Linked DNA regions of Homo sapiens: region 1 is linked to region 2. Evidence: fine-mapped expression QTL. Tissue or cell type: monocytes. Region 2 holds a variant in brackets; the other region holds the start of a gene. All regions are shown on one strand. Distances are between the middles of the regions.

Region 1 (8,043 bases), 30 kb after region 2:
GGCAACATGGCAAAACACCATCTCTACAAAAAATACAAGAAATTAGCTGGGTGTGGTGGCACAGGCCTGTGGTCCCAGCTACTTGGGAGACTAAGGTGGAAAGATTGCTTGAGCCCAGGAGGTGGAAGGTGCAATGAGCCGAGATCGCACCACTGTACTCCAGCCTGAAGAAGAGAGCAAGACCCTGTCTCAAGAAAAGAAAAAAAGAATTCCCAGGAATCTTTTATTATAAATAAGTCAAAAGCAGCCCTCACTATAAAACAACTATATGCAAAATTTTCAAGTGATTTTTCATAAAATTTCTCACAGCACTAATCAAAGCATACCTACTTCATGTTTAAAAAATATTTCAGAGACTCTTCCATACAATTATATAATTCTTATGTTTACAGTTTTGACAATGACACATTCCTTCATATGTTGATCAGCAAGGCTTAAACTTTTTGGTTAAGCCATAAACTTACTGGTTCTCGTTATTATAGTATAAAGAAAATGCCCATAAATATCTTTACAGAAATGTTTTCTTTTGATTTTTATTTCTTAAACGTACTCCCTAAAGTAGAATTATAAGATCCAAAGATAAATAATGAAGTGCGGACTCTTATATCAGCAAGTTATATTTAAACTTACAACTAGACTTACGTAGAGTCTGCTTGTTACACTAAAAAATGGAACCCTAAGGCCTACTATCAGAATTAAAGAAACTTTACATTCCCAAAACTATCCTTGACTTAAAACTTCAAAGTAAAATGTGGATTATGATGTAATATATAGATTTATCATTGATCACAAAGAATTTTCCTGATAATTACCATCTGCAACATAGGATAAAGTAGATGCTTACTGCAAGAAAATTTTTTTTTTGCCTTGAAATTATGGTTAATCTAAGACCATAATAAGTGCTTATTGTAACAATCTAATTTGCTAATGGATTGAAAATAAGAGTTTGACTTATTGACTTAAACTGTAAGTATCTGAAAGAGATATTTACAGTTTAAATATGGCTTAATCCATAAGTTTAAGCCTGTTAACAAGGACCTGAATGTATTACTGTGAGTGATGATTTTGTGTCTTCCATTATAGATCACCTTCATCCACACTCAATTCACCCTGAAAGACTTACTTTTGTTGTAACTAATTCTTTACATCTAAAGTCACTAGCTCTGATGAAAAATTAGTGACATTATTAATGTTTTAAAACACAGCAAAGCTATGAAGATGTTTCTTTAAGATTCTGGTGTACTTGTGTCTAAGCCCTCCCAGGGAAACAACCTTAGGCTTTCTCTCCAGGTCGTTTTTGACTTACATTTAGTCCCTCCCTTAGGAGCCAACTGTCCTTGTATAGGGGCTGCCCTTGTTGTTTGTGTCTTCGGGCAATGACGTGAGGAATGCTGGCAGGAAGAGTGTCTGTGGCTCGACCAATCCTTAAAGTTGTTGAACCTGGATGTATGACAATGATGAAGTTGCTCTGGATTTGCTGCAGATATAAAACATAGATGTGTGACTTTGTAAATAATATGCAGGTAACAAAGTTAAACAACATACACATAACAAGCTAAACTAAGAAGCTGACTCAAAGGTATCAAAATAATTCAATAAAGTTCTTTGAGAAGTATCCAATTACCGCTCTCTACCTAAACACAAACTCATTGTTTATTATGTTCCCTTGACCTGAGTTATAGTACATAGCTCAACAAATATTTGTTTAAATAAATGAAACAAAAATTGTCCACTACAAATTAACATACAGTTATTGAGCATTTATGTGACTGAAGAAATGTTGCTATAGAATCCGGGCCCAGGCTCTGAATTCACGGATCTGTCTGCAAATTCAGACTGCCACTTCCTTGCTCTGAATGAAGCTCCTAACTCACAGTTACTGTGAGAATTAAATGAGTTATACATGTAACTCAGAGCTGGGCCACAGGAAGCATTCGAGGAATGTTGGCTCTTACTATAGTAAAGCCTTTCAACGTGATCCACTGCCTTCACAAGAGGTCAGACTCTGTGGCTTACACGACCCTCATGATATGGCCCCTGCTAAGATCTTCAGTCCCCTTCCTTAACTCCAGACATCCTAATCTACTGGCTGGGCCTCCAACACTTCACATCCTCTGTTGGCACAAGTGTCTTCCACACTGTTCTTCTTCCCTGAGATTCCCTCCTCCCTCTGGTTAGCTCCTAATCACCTTCAGGACTCTAAACAGATGTCACCTCACCTCCTTTGAAGAAACCCTCCCTGACTGTCGGGGATGGAGGAGGTACTTGCTTGAGTGCCCAATACTGCCCTCTGCACAAGCCCATTCCATGCCATGCTCTGATACCTGTTGTCCTATCTCCAAGTGTGACCTCTCTCCTCCTAATCACCCCCCACAGAGTGGGAGAATCCTAGAGGGAAGGATCTGGCAAGGCCCTTACAGACCATCCAGTCAGCCTTCTCAACTAGACAGATGGAGAAACCAGGCCTGTGCAACAGTAATGGCCACTCTGGGCTTACGGTGTGCCAGGCACTGTCATACTAGTGATAACTAACTAGTAGCTGCCCTACTAGTTAGGTATTATCCTTAACCCATCTACCGGTAAGGAAGCTGGATCAGAGATGTCCTACATGAATTTCTGAGCAGTTTATGCCTCATTTCTTCTGTGAATTGTACACTGCCTGTGCCCGTTTTCCTACGTGAATGCTGTTTTAGTTACTGATCAGTAAGGTTTTGTGTATGTGTATACATCTAAGGTCCTCTGCCAGGCACGCTACTGCAAATAATTTTTTCTGGTTAGTTTAGTTTGGTCTAATAGTGTTGTTTTTGATACACAAGCTCTTAATATATATTTAGACAAATGTCCACCATTTCCTTGCTTTTAAGCTTGAAATGACTTCCATTATCTGAGATTTCCTTAACAAAGGAAAAAGCCTGGACCCCAAACTATCCCTTAACAAGCACAGGCTGACGCTCCCAGTGAGCCAGCCTGGTCCTAAACTCTATCTGCCACCATTTAACCCTCACGGCAACTTGCGAGGCGGCTGGTTATCACCGTGGTCGTTTTATGGTCGGGGAAGCTGAGGCCAGAGCCCGGGCAGGAGCGCACACAACCAGACGGTGGGGCGTGCGGGAGATCGGAGCGGTGTCCCTGCGGGGGCTCCGCCTGGCTCCTGGCGCTCCGCACCTCCCAGCCCTCGGCGTCCCGGCGCGCCACCACCCGGAAAAGAACGACCGCTTCCGCACTCCCCCCACCAGGGGCTGGGGCCTGCAAGGGGGACTCGAAGCCTCCCGCCGCCTCCCGCCCCTTGCCTGGCAGCGGAGGACCCAAGCAAGGGCAAAGAGTTCCAACCCAGCCAGAGCCGCACCTCTTGCAGCGACTCCGGCACCAGCGCGGGCACGATGGGCCGCTTCACGCCGCGCTGCTCCTTCTCCTTCTCGCCGCCCTTCTCCTTTCCGTTCTCCGTATCACCCTTCTCAGCCTGGGTCATTATGGCCGGAGACACCCACCAACCTCTCGCCTCAGCGCTGCAGCCACGACTGCCGGGATGGAAGGGCCACCGCGCAGGCGCACGGCCGGCTGCCCACAGTCAAGATGGCCGCCGCGGAGTCGCCCCAGAGGGCTCCGAAAAGGCGGGGGTGGGGCTGCCCGGCGCAGGGGCTGGGGGCGGGGTGTGCATGCGGATTGATTGGGTGGGTGTTGCTGTGATTAGTCCTGACTGTGTAGATGCCAGCAACATAGTACACATAGCTTTTCGAGCGCCTAGTGGGGGTCGGCTGATAACCCGCATCTTATTTCGTCCTCACAGGCATCTCTTCTCCTGGCTTCCCAGATACCATATGTACTCTTAGTTTTTCTCATATGTCTTCATGTTCAGTCCAGCCTCTGATGTTGGGGTTAGGTCTTTTCCAGGCACACTCCTTGGGTGACTATCCAGTTTCCTGGCTTTAGCAATGAATACGATTCCCAAATATATATATCCAGGATGAACCGCTCAGAGAGATCCGTACTGATAACCAGTGCCTACTTGGTCTCTCCATCTGGATTGTCTACAAGGCACTGCAAACTTAAATATGTCCAAAATTTAACTCTTGATTCCCTCCCCTCTCACTTTCACCATCTCAGTAAATGTCATTTTGATTCTTCACTTGTTGACAGCTTCTACATCCAATCCATCAGTAAATCCTGCAGTCTCTAAAATAGATCTTGAATTCATCCACTTCTCCATTCCCATGCCACTACCTAGCCCAAGCCACTATCATCTCACCTGGATGACTACAACAGCCTCTTAACTCGAACTCCTTGTCCTGTCCCCCTATGATCTGTTCTTATATAGTTGCCCACGTTGTTTTAAAATATTACGTAGTTAATACTACTATGTACCCAGCACTCCACTAAGACTTACCTCAAAAATTAGATGTCACTCATGCTTTAAACTCTAATGGTTTCCCTTTGCTCAAAGAACAGAATCTAAACTAACCACCACCTAAAGACCATATCTAGTTATTGCTACATTTCTAAGTTCACCTCACAACACTCTCCCCATTCCTTGGCATTTCCAGCTACACCTGTTTTATCTTTCTCAGACATGCCAAGCCCTTCCCGTCATCGGGCTGTTGCACTTGCTGTTCATTTTGCCTTGGATGCTCTTCCCTCAGCTGTCTCATTCTCACGTCTGAACTCAAATGTCACCTCAGGCCTTCCGCAGTTATTCTCTCATCATCCTATTCCCTTTGAAGCATGAAGCATTAGTCTGTAATTATCATGCCTGCTCACTGTCTCCCACACTAGAATGTAAGCTCCGTGAGACTTTGCCAGTTATCTTCAGCACATGGTAGGTGCCCAATAAGCATGTGATGACTAAATACTAAATAAAGAACTCTTGGAGGTAAAAATTTAATCCCCGTTTTACAGGTGAGTGAAGTGGGATAAAATGGCATAATTCACTCAAGATCATAAGCTATTGAGTAGCAAAGACAAGAGTTAAGCATAAAGTACTCAAGAACCTGTGTTTTACATTCTATCTGAAGTGCAAAGAAGAATACCTGAATGTCAAATGCAGCCAGAACTCTGGGATAAGACCCGAGGAACAAGTCCTGCAGCAGCAGTGCTAGGAGGCAGAAGAGGACCATGGTTCACATGCTCAGGAAGAGCCATCAGTAACAACAATCAACCACCTACTGAGACTCTGCCATGGTCTCCCCGCTATAGGGTAAGGTGGAGGTTTAATAATGCCTCTGCCATTCACTGGCAATACAATCTAGGAAGCTGCCAAACTTTACTGAACCCTTGCATGTATCTGTATAATGCAAATGTCATTATACATTTACCTCACTTTGTATATATGTATACATTATACATATCCCTCACTTTGTCAGAATTTAAAATGTGTAAAAATTTACAGGCTGGGCATTGTGGCTCACACGTGTAATCCCAGCGTTTAGGGAGGCCATAGTGGGAGATCACTTTAGCCCAAAAGGTCAAGGCTGCAGTGAGCAGCCACTGTACTCCAGCCTGGATAAGAGTGAGACCCTGTCTCAAAAATAAAAATAAAAAATAAAAATAAAATAAAAATTAAAAAATAAATAAAATCTGACACATAATTGAGGTGGCCAGCAAACTGTTATCCTTATCCTGAAACCTGCATTGTAATTGCTTCTTTATCCTGAATATTGGTATCTTATGCCACAACATCCCATTTCCCGACAAACGGGGTTGAATAAATGCTGATAAATCAATATAAAAAGGCTTTCACCTGAACACTTGGTTTCAAAGCCTGTTAAACACCAGAAGAGGAATTATCTGTTTTCGTTTTTCCAATAAATATTTATTTCCAATAAATACTACATGACTATCTTACATGTAGTCACTATTCAAAGGACTGGGGTAAAGACAACAAAATTCCTAGTCTCAGAGCTTCCACTCTAGTGAAAGAATGTGAAAGTTATCAGTATTCAGATGGAGTTTAAAGCCAATAGGCAGTATTTTGAGTGATGCTATAGAGTGCAAATTTGTCAAGATAGCATGGAAGCCCATGGTTTTATTTATTTTTTTGAGACAGGGTCTCACTCTGTTGCCTAGGCAGGAGTGCAGTGGCATGCTCACAGCAACCTCCGCCTCCCGGGTTGAAGCGATTCTCCTGCCTCCGCCTCCTGAGTAGCAGGGATTACAGGTGCACTCTACCACGCCTGGCTAATTTTTGTTATTTTAGGTTTCGTCATGCTGCAGGCTGGTCTCAAACTCGTGAACTTAGGCGATCTGCCCGCCTCAGCCTCCCACAGTGCTGGGATTACAGGCATGAGCCACCGCGCCAGGCTGAAGTCCATGATTTTAAAAACTATTTAGTAAATTTTCATTTTGTAGCTCAGTTTTGTTAGCTATGGTTTTATAAATACCCTGATAATTACATTTGGTAGCAAATTAGACACAGTGTATTAAAGATTGATGAGACAAATATGTTAAAGATAAAAATTAATTCAAGAGCACAGATATGCTATGCATACTACTAAAATAAATACAGTGATTTATAAATGAGAAAAAGTTAACAATGAACAGTGTTTCAGAAGTTGAAAAGGTGACACTAACAGTGCTAAATACACAGGCTTTTATTTGTTTTCTTCAGATTGCTTTTTCGTGAATATAAAGATGAGGAGTCCATTCTGCAACCTAAAAATATTTACTTATTAAAACTATATTAATACTTTAATAAACTATACAAAAAGGTAATGAGACAAACATCTGCATTTATGGAACTGCATGTCAGTCAGGCCAGTTCCCTGCAGAGGGAATTCCCAGCATGACCTCATTCATCTGTGAGGACACAGAGCAGTCCTTGTTTAGACATACACATTCATCTACTGCTCATCATGGTCAGCCTTCCACTTCTTGATGGTTTCCTTCTGCTATGAATGCGCATGTCCGGTTGTCTGCTTCTTAGAGCAGACATTTACCTGAAAGAAAATGTTACAATAATTAGTTACTGGTTATTAATTTGGATCTGTGTGAAAACCTCAACATATTACATGTTATAAAATCTTTCTCAAAAGACATTTTGATAACAAGGCCAGTGAATTTTTCAAGGGTTAAGATAACAAATATATTTCCAAATAATGTCTGAGTAATTATAAGCTGCTGGGCAACTTCTTAAAGAAAACATTACTACAGAAGTGTTTTCAAAACAAAATCCTACAAAAGAATTTCAGATCTGAAGTTACCTTCCTCATCCACCAGCCATTGGAGGGGGACTAGGGCCACGCAGATGATTGATTCTACCCATTCTTCGGGGAGGGTTTCCTGGTGGCCTAATAAAATAAAAAGTTAGTATCTACTGTTTGATAGACACAACTTGAATTGTCTCCTTTTAAAAGCACTCAACTAGACCCTTTTCTTTTTCAGCACCCACATGACCCTAAAACACAATTTAAAATAGAAACTACCATTTTAGGTCAGGAGGCAAAAATTAAAACACTTAAAGGGACCAGACACATAATGCACACAAGGAACTGAGTCAAGAAAGGACTGTGATGAACTGAATAGCACCTCCAGTAATGCCCCACTGAAACCCAGCTCCAGCTGATTTTTGCCAGGTAGAAACATAAGCCTAGCCCAGTGCTACTTGATCTTGATCTTTACGGCTTTTTTTTTGAGATGGAGTCCCACTCTGTCTCCAGGCTGGAGTGCAGTGGCACGATCTCAGCTCACTGCAACCTCTACCTCCTGGGTTCAAACAATTCTCCTGCCTCAGCCTCCTGAGTAGCTGGGACTACAGGCGCATACCACCACACCCAGCTAATTTTTGTATTTTAGTAGAGACGGGGTTTCATCATGTTGGTCAGGATGGTCTCGATCTCTTGACCTCGTGATCCACCCGCCTCAGCCTCCCAAAGTGCTGGGATTACAGGCTCAAGCCACCGTGCCTGGCGATCTTCTAAGTTTTTAATTAGCAACTAGAAATCCAGATGTTAAAATGAAATCTTTAGATTTTAATGGTGGCCATCAGTTTTCACCCTCTAATTTAGACTTTTTCCATGGGATATTTCATGTATATTTTAGCTTTGTCAGATT
Region 2 (8,000 bases):
AGGAAAGTACCATGGACTGCATTCAGAGCTTTCTTTTGTTTATCTCCTTAGCATAGCTACTCCTTAACCTGGGGTAGCCCAGTAAATACTCTAGGCCGTCCTAAAAACCTAGAGTTAAACATTAGAGTGTGAAGGGGCCTCACATCGGTCCCAAGTCATCCCCTGCTTGCAGCAGGGAAGGATGACATCCAGAGACAGATGGAGACCCACCTGTGGTCTTCAAGTGAGGTTATGCACTGGCTTGAGGATCAGGTATACTGATGGCTAATCCATGGTCCGTCATAGCCTACAGTGGGACAGCTTAGTTCCCCCCTAAGCTGTGAAGCAGAACCAGTTCATCTTTTCTTTGAAAGTTTGTCACTTGTATATGCATTTAAGGGGAAAATGGTGTTCTGCCTAATTTGGCAAAGGAAAGCTTGTGGTTTGCCGGCTTCAACGTGACGCTTGGTTTTTTCTCTCCCACAGACCGTTCAATGTGGCTCTGAAACTGGTAGGTGCATTAGAGAATGGGTATTTGGGGCTTTACATTGAAAGCACAGTTGGACTTTTAGGAAGCCTAATATAGGCAATAGGTCATCGAAGACCAGACACAGGGTGACCCATTGCTTTATTGGCTGATGCAGATGAAGTCTCTGTCTGCTCGAAGCAGAACTCTGGGGCTCTGTGGGAATGAGGCCGTGTTTCAGACAGGCTAGCCTCTTGGCCAGTCAAGATGGGACTTGCCATACAAGGTGGAAAGTGATGCCTGCCACTCTGCAGAGGGAGATCAAGGCCGTGGAAGGAAGGTCACTTAGAGTTGGGACCGAGAAGCAAATGTTTCATAGGAGAGCGGGTGTTTGAGATGGTGGCATTTGAAGAATGGGTAGGCTTCTGCCCAAAAAATGTGGGTAGGAAGAGTGAGCTGGAGGAGAGATGGCACCAGCAAAGGTTAGGAGGTGGGAAAGTGGGGGCTGTGTGGGCCAGCTGGCTGGAATCCAGGGCCAAAGCCTGAGGAAGGCAGGCCTGACTCTAATAAACATGTCAAATACACTAAATATATACATGTGTACATACACAGGTACCTGGAGTGGTCCCACGTGCTCTGTAGGTGAAAGCCAGGAGGTTGAGAGTACTTCTGTTAGATCAAAATTATCTGGGCTATAAATCAGCCAGCGCTAAGAAACATTTGGCCTTAGCAGGAAGAACTGAGGAATTGGGTCAGGCGTGGTGGCTTATACCTATAATCCAAGCACTTTGGGAGGCTGAGGTGGGAGGATCATTTGAGGCCAGGAGTTTGAGATCATCTTAGGCAACAGAGTGAGACCCCATCTCTACAAAAAACATTTTTTTAATTAAAAAAAAAAGAAGTGAGGAATTGTGAATGGGGGAAGGTTTGGTGTGAGTCACTGAGAGGAGATGGCATGGCATCAGACTGGGCTGGGAAAGACAGTGTCATGGAAGTCTTGCTTTTTCCCAGGGCCATCTCCAGAGTGGATGCTACAACATGATCTAATCCCCGGAGACTTGAGGGACCTCCGAGTAGAACCTGTTACAACTAGTGTTGCAACAGGGGACTATTCAATTTTGATGAATGTAAGCTGGGTACTCCGGGCAGATGGTAAGTTTGCATCCATCAGAGATAAGGCCCAAAGTGTCTACTAAATCAGAAATGTGCAGACTATATGAACCATTAATTCCCCTTCTACGCATAACCAACAGAAATACATGCATACACGCACCAAAAGCCACATACTAGGGTGATCGCAGTAGCACTACTTACAACAGGCAACATTAGAAAGCACTCAAATGCCCAACAGTAGAAAGGAATCACCAGATAAATTCCGTCACAGCAACAAGAATGAATGATCTGTAACTACGTACAACAATATGGATGAATGTCACAAACATAAGGCAGATTCAAAAGAGTTTGTACATTTATATCTGTGTGCATGCCTGCAGGCATACATGCCATATGATCCCATTTACAGAAAGTGCCAAGCAAACAAAACCAATCTAGTGTTTAGAAGTCAGGATAGTAGCCAGGAGCGGTGGCTAACGCCTGTAATCCCAGCACTTTGGGAGGCCGAGGTGGGTGGATCACTTGAGGCCAGGAGTTCGAGACCAGCCTGGCCAACATGGCAAAACCCCATCTCTACTAAGAATACAAAAATTAGCCAGATGTGGTGTTGCACACCTGTAATCCCAGCTACTCGGGAGGCTGAGGCACGAGAATCGCTTGAACCCAGGAGGCGGAGCTTGCAGTGAGCTGTGATCGCACCACTGCACTCCAGCAGCCTGGGCAACAGAGTGAAACTCCGTCTCAAAAAAAAAAAAAAAAGCAAAAGACCAGGCGTGGTGGCGCATGCCTGTAATCCCAGCACTTTGGGAGGCCAAGGCGGGTAGATTACTTGAGGTCAGGAGTTCAAGACCAGCCTGGCCAACATGGTGAAACTCCATCTCTCCTAAAAATACAAAAAATTAGCCAGGCATGGTGGCACATGCCTGTAATCCCAGCTACTTGGGAGGCTGAGGCAGGAGAATAACTTGAACCCAGGAGGTGGAGGTTGCAGTGAGTTGAGACTGTGCCATTGCACTCCTGCCTGGGTGACAGAGAGACTGTCTCAAAATAAAATAAAATAAAATAAAATAAAAGTCAGGGTAGTGGTTCCTGCTGGGGTAGGAATAACTGTAAGGAAGTATGAGGAGCACACCTGAGGGAGTTTCTTAACCTGCATACTGGTTGCATGAGTGTCCCGATGCATCAAGTGGTACACTTATGTGTGTACTTTTCTGTGTATGTACTTCATGGAAGAAGATAAGGTAAGGCGAGAGATGATTTTCCCCACCCCACTTCAGTTTAGGGAAAGCACTGGCTTAGATAGATTACTTTTCCACTTCCCAGATGACGTCACGAAGCTTTTGGCATTTCCCCAAGATTGTGCTGCAAGGCACCATATGAGTTCTTTCAGTGAGCTACTCCTGGGATCCTAATGCCCATCCTTTTGGTTTCCATCTGCTAAATTCAGATCGGAAAAAAGTCTACCTGGTCAAGAATCCATGAGTGCCAGGCACAGAGAGAGGAGTCACCTACAGTCTCCACCCAGGAGGATTCAGAGGGGTAGGGGAGGCAGACACAGGCACAATGTCAGGGGAGTCCCAGAAGGGAGCTGTGCTTCATCTGAGTGGGATAGGGCGAGAGGAGCTGGAAAGGGTCTCTGGTGAGGTTGCTTTAGGTGAGATGTGGCCATAAGGGTTTGGGCCCTTACCTGGCACAGAGTGAGCTCTTTGTCAGCTGTGGTTATGGGCTGTGGTGCATGAGTGAGTTGGGCTTTAAAAGAGTGAAACTTGAAGAGGTAGATAATGGGAGGAAAGGACCTTCAGGGAGAAGAATCAGCATGGATAAAGGTGCAATCGGAACAGGTGTGGTTTGGTGATGACAGTCTTGGAGGGTCTTTGTGGGTCTCCCTGAGGCCAGCCTCTTCCTCTTAAAAGAGACCCAGAATAGTGCAGAGCTATAGCCACCTTTGCAGGCATCCTATGAAATTCAAGCTGACCTATGAGGAGGAGGGAGCTTGGGCTTTGGAATCTGAATTCGTATCTGCTACTTGCTGATGAGTTTTCTAAGTTTAAGCAGAGCTCCCTGAAACTTCCTAAGCCTCACGAACCCCATCTGTAAACTGGAGACAGTGGTGCCTACCTTTCAGTACTATTGTGAATATGAACCGAGACATAAAATAAAGCATGCTAGTAAAGCATCTAGCATCAAGTCAGCCACACAGCAAGTGCTAAATAAACCAATGTCCTCTTGCCTATCTCGGCAGCCAGCATCCGCTTGTTGAAGGCCACCAAGATTTGTGTGACGGGCAAAAGCAACTTCCAGTCCTACAGCTGTGTGAGGTGCAATTACACAGAGGCCTTCCAGACTCAGACCAGACCCTCTGGTGGTAAAGTAAGCACTTTTTTGTTTTTTGTTTTGTTTTTTGAGATAGCATCTTGTTCTGTCACCCAGGCTGGAGTGCAGTGGTGCGATCATGGCTCACTGCGACCTCAATCTTCTGGGCTCAAGCGATCGTTCTACTTCAGCCTCCCAAGCAGCTGGGACTACAGGCATGAGCCACCAGACCTGGCTAATTTTTGTAGTTTTTGTAGAGGGGGGTTTCACCGTGTTGCTGGTCTTGAATTCCAGTGCTCAAGCGATCTGCCTGCCTCAGCTTCCCAAAGTGCTGGGATTACAGGTATGAGCCACTGTATCCGGGCATAGACACTTTTATGTATTTGGCTAATTGTTGCTGAAAGCTATGCCCTTTGTTTGGGGAGCATGGATGATGTGCTGCTCACACGGGCTGGTAAATAGCTATGACTCAGAGCTTAGAGCAAGATCCCTTGGTTCAAATCCCATTTTCGGCTACTTCTCTGTTTTGTGCCTTTTGTAAGTCAGCATCTCTGGGCCTCAGTTTTTCCCTACCAGCCAATGGAAGAGAATTGGACTTAAATTATATCCTGGCTTTAAAACTTTATACTTCTCTGATTCTGTAAATTGTTTAGTGCCCATTCCCTAAGTAGACATTGGTTGGAGACCTAAGTTTTCACAGAGTGAGTAATGAAATACAAACTAAAAGGGCAACACACTAAGGTATACTGTTTCTGTACTGCAGTGTTTTGGGAATTGAGAGTTCCTTGCTTTGCCTTTCAGTGGACATTTTCCTA[C/T]ATCGGCTTCCCTGTAGAGCTGAACACAGTCTATTTCATTGGGGCCCATAATATTCCTAATGCAAATATGAATGAAGATGGCCCTTCCATGTCTGTGAATTTCACCTCACCAGGTAAACTTCCTCATTTGTTTATTATTCTTTGTCTTGCTGGGATGCCTGCTTTGCGATATGCACAGAGAGAGCCCAGGGAACCCTGGATAAGGCTTTTGGCCTTGCTAAATCTCAGTTCCCTTATCTAAAGCATGGACACAGTAGTAACCATACTTTACCCACAGAGCAGAGAGAATAAAGTCAGGTAAAATGTAGGAAAAAGTCTGTTCCTGTATGCCAGGCACTGTGCTGAATACTTGATATGCATCATCTCACTTAAGCATCTCAGCAACCCCAAGGTTGGGATAGCTGCATTTTACAGATGAAGAAACTGAGAGGTTAAGTCACTTTCCCTGGGTTATACACACATAAAAGTGAAGCTGACATTCACACTTTGGTCCTTCTAGAGCAATGCACCTGAGCCACTCTTTATATCACTGATGCAAAATGTTTGTTCGTTCCTATCTCAGCTTTCTAGAGTGGGCTGCATATGGCTGGGCCTCTGAGAATCTACAGACTCCAGTTGGCTTGTCCCCAAGCTGTCCATGAGAGGCAGGGTGGTCCTGAGTTGGATGCTGGGCCCTTGCCCCAGCTTTGTGACACAGGACCAGTTCTCTGGTACCACAGCTGCAATGTCACACACAGGGCTGTGATGAGGATGAGACAGGATGGTGTGTGTGAAGGGTCTATCTGAGCCGAGTCACCCATCCCATACCACCATCCTGTCATCTGTCACAGGCAAGGCATCAAAGCCAAACGGTAATTTCCAATTCACTGCTGGTCTTGGAGATTGTGGTCCAGGGTGTTTTTGGTGCTGCACCATTTACTACACGTGGTTTCCAACTTTCTTGATGAGAGCAAACCTCATTTTGTTTTCAAATAAGCTTTTTTATTTTGGAATTCTTTTATTTTATTATTTATTTATTTATTTATTTTTTAGACGGGGTTTTGCTCTTGTTGCCCTGGCTGGAGTGCAGTGGCACCATCTCAGCTCACTGCAACCTCCGCCTCTTGGATTTAAGTGATTCTCCTGCCTCAGCCTCCCAAGAAGCTAGGATTACAGTCATGAGCCACCACACCCAGCTAATTTTTGTATTTTTAGTAGAGACGGGGTTTCACTATGATGGCTAGGCTAGTCTCAAACTCCTAACCTCGGGTGATCTGCCTACCTTGGCCTCCCAAAGTGCTGGGATTACAGGAGTGAGCCACCGTACCCAGCCTTATTTTGGAATAATTTTAGATTTACAGAAAAGTTGCAAAGATAGTACAGTTTCCATATACCTCTCACCCAGCTTCTCCTATTAACGTCTTGTATTACCATGATACATTTGTCAAAACTAAGAAACCAACATTAGTACGTGTCTGTTAACTAAACTCCAGACTTTATTTGGACTTCACCTGCTTTTTCATGAATGTCCTCTTTCTGTTCCAGTTGCATTTAGTCCCTGTGTGTCTCTCCTCTGGTCTGTAACAGTTTCTTAGTCTTTGTTTTTCAGAACGTTGACAGTCTTGAGTTCTGACCAGGCATCCTGTAGAATGTCCCCCAGTGTGGGTTTGTCTGATGTTTGTCTCATGATTAGACAGGGAATTCATACCACAGAGGTGCCGGGCCCTTCTTATCCCATCAGGGGTCCATGGCACCCACATGACACCAGGCTGGGGGTCACCATCAACACTAGATTAATGTGGGGACTGCCAGACTTCTCCATGTAAATCTACTGTTTTTCCCAACTCTCGTTTTTGGAAACAAGTCACTAATTCTACCCCACCCTGGGGTGAGGATAGGGGAGTGTTAGGCTTCATGTCCTTGAAGGGGCAGCATCTACAGATATTACCAAATGTCCTTTTCAAATGATGGATGGTTTTCGAGTCCTCTCTTAGGGATCAAAGATACTGTTTTGATAAAGGCTGTATTTAAATTAGACTCTGGTTATCACGTAATGGGCAGATGTTCTCTGTTTAGCAGTAAAATGTTAGAGCCCCACAAAAAATTAGCCGGGCGTGGTGGCGGGCGCCTGTAGTCCCAGCTACTCAGGAGCCTGAGGCAGGAGAATGGCGTGAACCTGGGTGGCAGAGCTAGCAGTGAGCTGAGATTGCGCCACTGCACTCCAGCCTAGGCGACAGAGCAAGACTCCGGCTCAAAAAAAAAAAAAAAAAAAAAAAAATTAGAGCCCCATTTGAATTTGCCATCTTACATCTGGAATGTTTTGGCAATTTGTTACAGGTGTGGTATGCGTATGTGTGTGTGCACTTGGCAAAGGGGGTGGGGCAGAGATACCTTTTTCTAAAATGTAAAAACTTTCATTCAAATTTCCAGGCTGCCTAGACCACATAATGAAATATAAAAAAAAGTGTGTCAAGGCCGGTAAGTAAATACGGCATTTGCTTTTATTATTTGAAGAAACTTGTAACTTGAGGCAGCATAGCTCTCTTCATCTTTGCACAGAAGAACTGAGCCCTAGGGGAGAGTTGAATATCCAAGCACCCCCGATGGTGGTGGCAGAAGCACCTATGGCTCCTGATCTCCAGCCAGTACTTTGCCCACTGAGTGCAGCAGCCTGTCCAGAAAGGGGTAGACCCTCAGTACATTTATATAGTGGAGCAACAGTCACAAAGAACCACCCCCATCCACTTGGTTAACAACATTTTAGCCCAAATGGCTCAGCAGTGCCAATCAAAGGCTCTTCCTGATTGATGGGAGTCCTACGAGCCCTTCCACCTGCTCAGATGCTAGCACCACCCACCTGTGGCCATGGGGATCCTAAGAACCTTCTGTTTGGATTAGCAAACATTCGAGGTGGGAGTGTGAGTTCGCTAAAGGACTGGCCCACAATTACGCTCTCAATTTGTGTCCTCAAAGAGGATCACTTTTCACAGGCTAGTGAATTTTACCCCTTGAATTTTGTAGTAATCCCCTTTAGGATTATTAGTCCCTAGTGCCCAGTTTCCAAGGGTTTGTGTAAATTTCTGAGTAATATAGTGTTGGAATGCTAATGAGGCTAGTGGTATTTGGATCAGCCCAGAACTCTTAGGCACCCTTCACTGCACAAGGCATCCCTGGTACCCTTTCAGACAGCCGTCCATGCTGTCCTTGCTAGAAGGCAGATTTGGACGCTGAGCTTCCCACCAAGGGTACAGAGAACACTGCAGGTGTGAGGAGGTCAGAGGGCCTTGAAGTCAGTCCTGAACCTGAACTCCTAAAGACAGTTCTGAGCCAGGGCC

What was found. PIP is the estimated chance that this variant, and not a neighbour inherited with it, causes the effect.
Region 1: it holds the start of ACTR8, and the variant in region 2 is fine-mapped to the expression of ACTR8 in monocytes (TOPMed, PIP 0.91).

The regions. Positions count from the first base shown.
Region 1 is chr3:53,878,633-53,886,675 of GRCh38, forward strand. It overlaps ACTR8 (actin related protein 8), which reads right to left and starts at 3,520. Exons shown (of 13, transcript NM_022899.5): 1 at 3,347-3,520; 2 at 1,307-1,477. The coding sequence starts at 3,469. It overlaps SELENOK (selenoprotein K), which reads right to left. Exons shown (of 5, transcript NM_021237.5): 4 at 7,194-7,280; 5 at 5,785-6,929. The coding sequence ends at 6,926. RefSeq lists silencers at 3,147-3,256, 3,647-3,736 and an enhancer at 3,407-3,486.
Region 2 is chr3:53,848,199-53,856,198 of GRCh38, forward strand. IL17RB (interleukin 17 receptor B) reads left to right here. Exons shown (of 11, transcript NM_018725.4): 2 at 466-490; 3 at 1,457-1,597; 4 at 3,801-3,928; 5 at 4,673-4,799; 6 at 7,096-7,143. Among named protein-coding and RNA genes, the nearest start is that of IL17RB, 5.6 kb to the left of the region's middle. The variant C/T (reference allele first, on the strand shown) is at 4,687.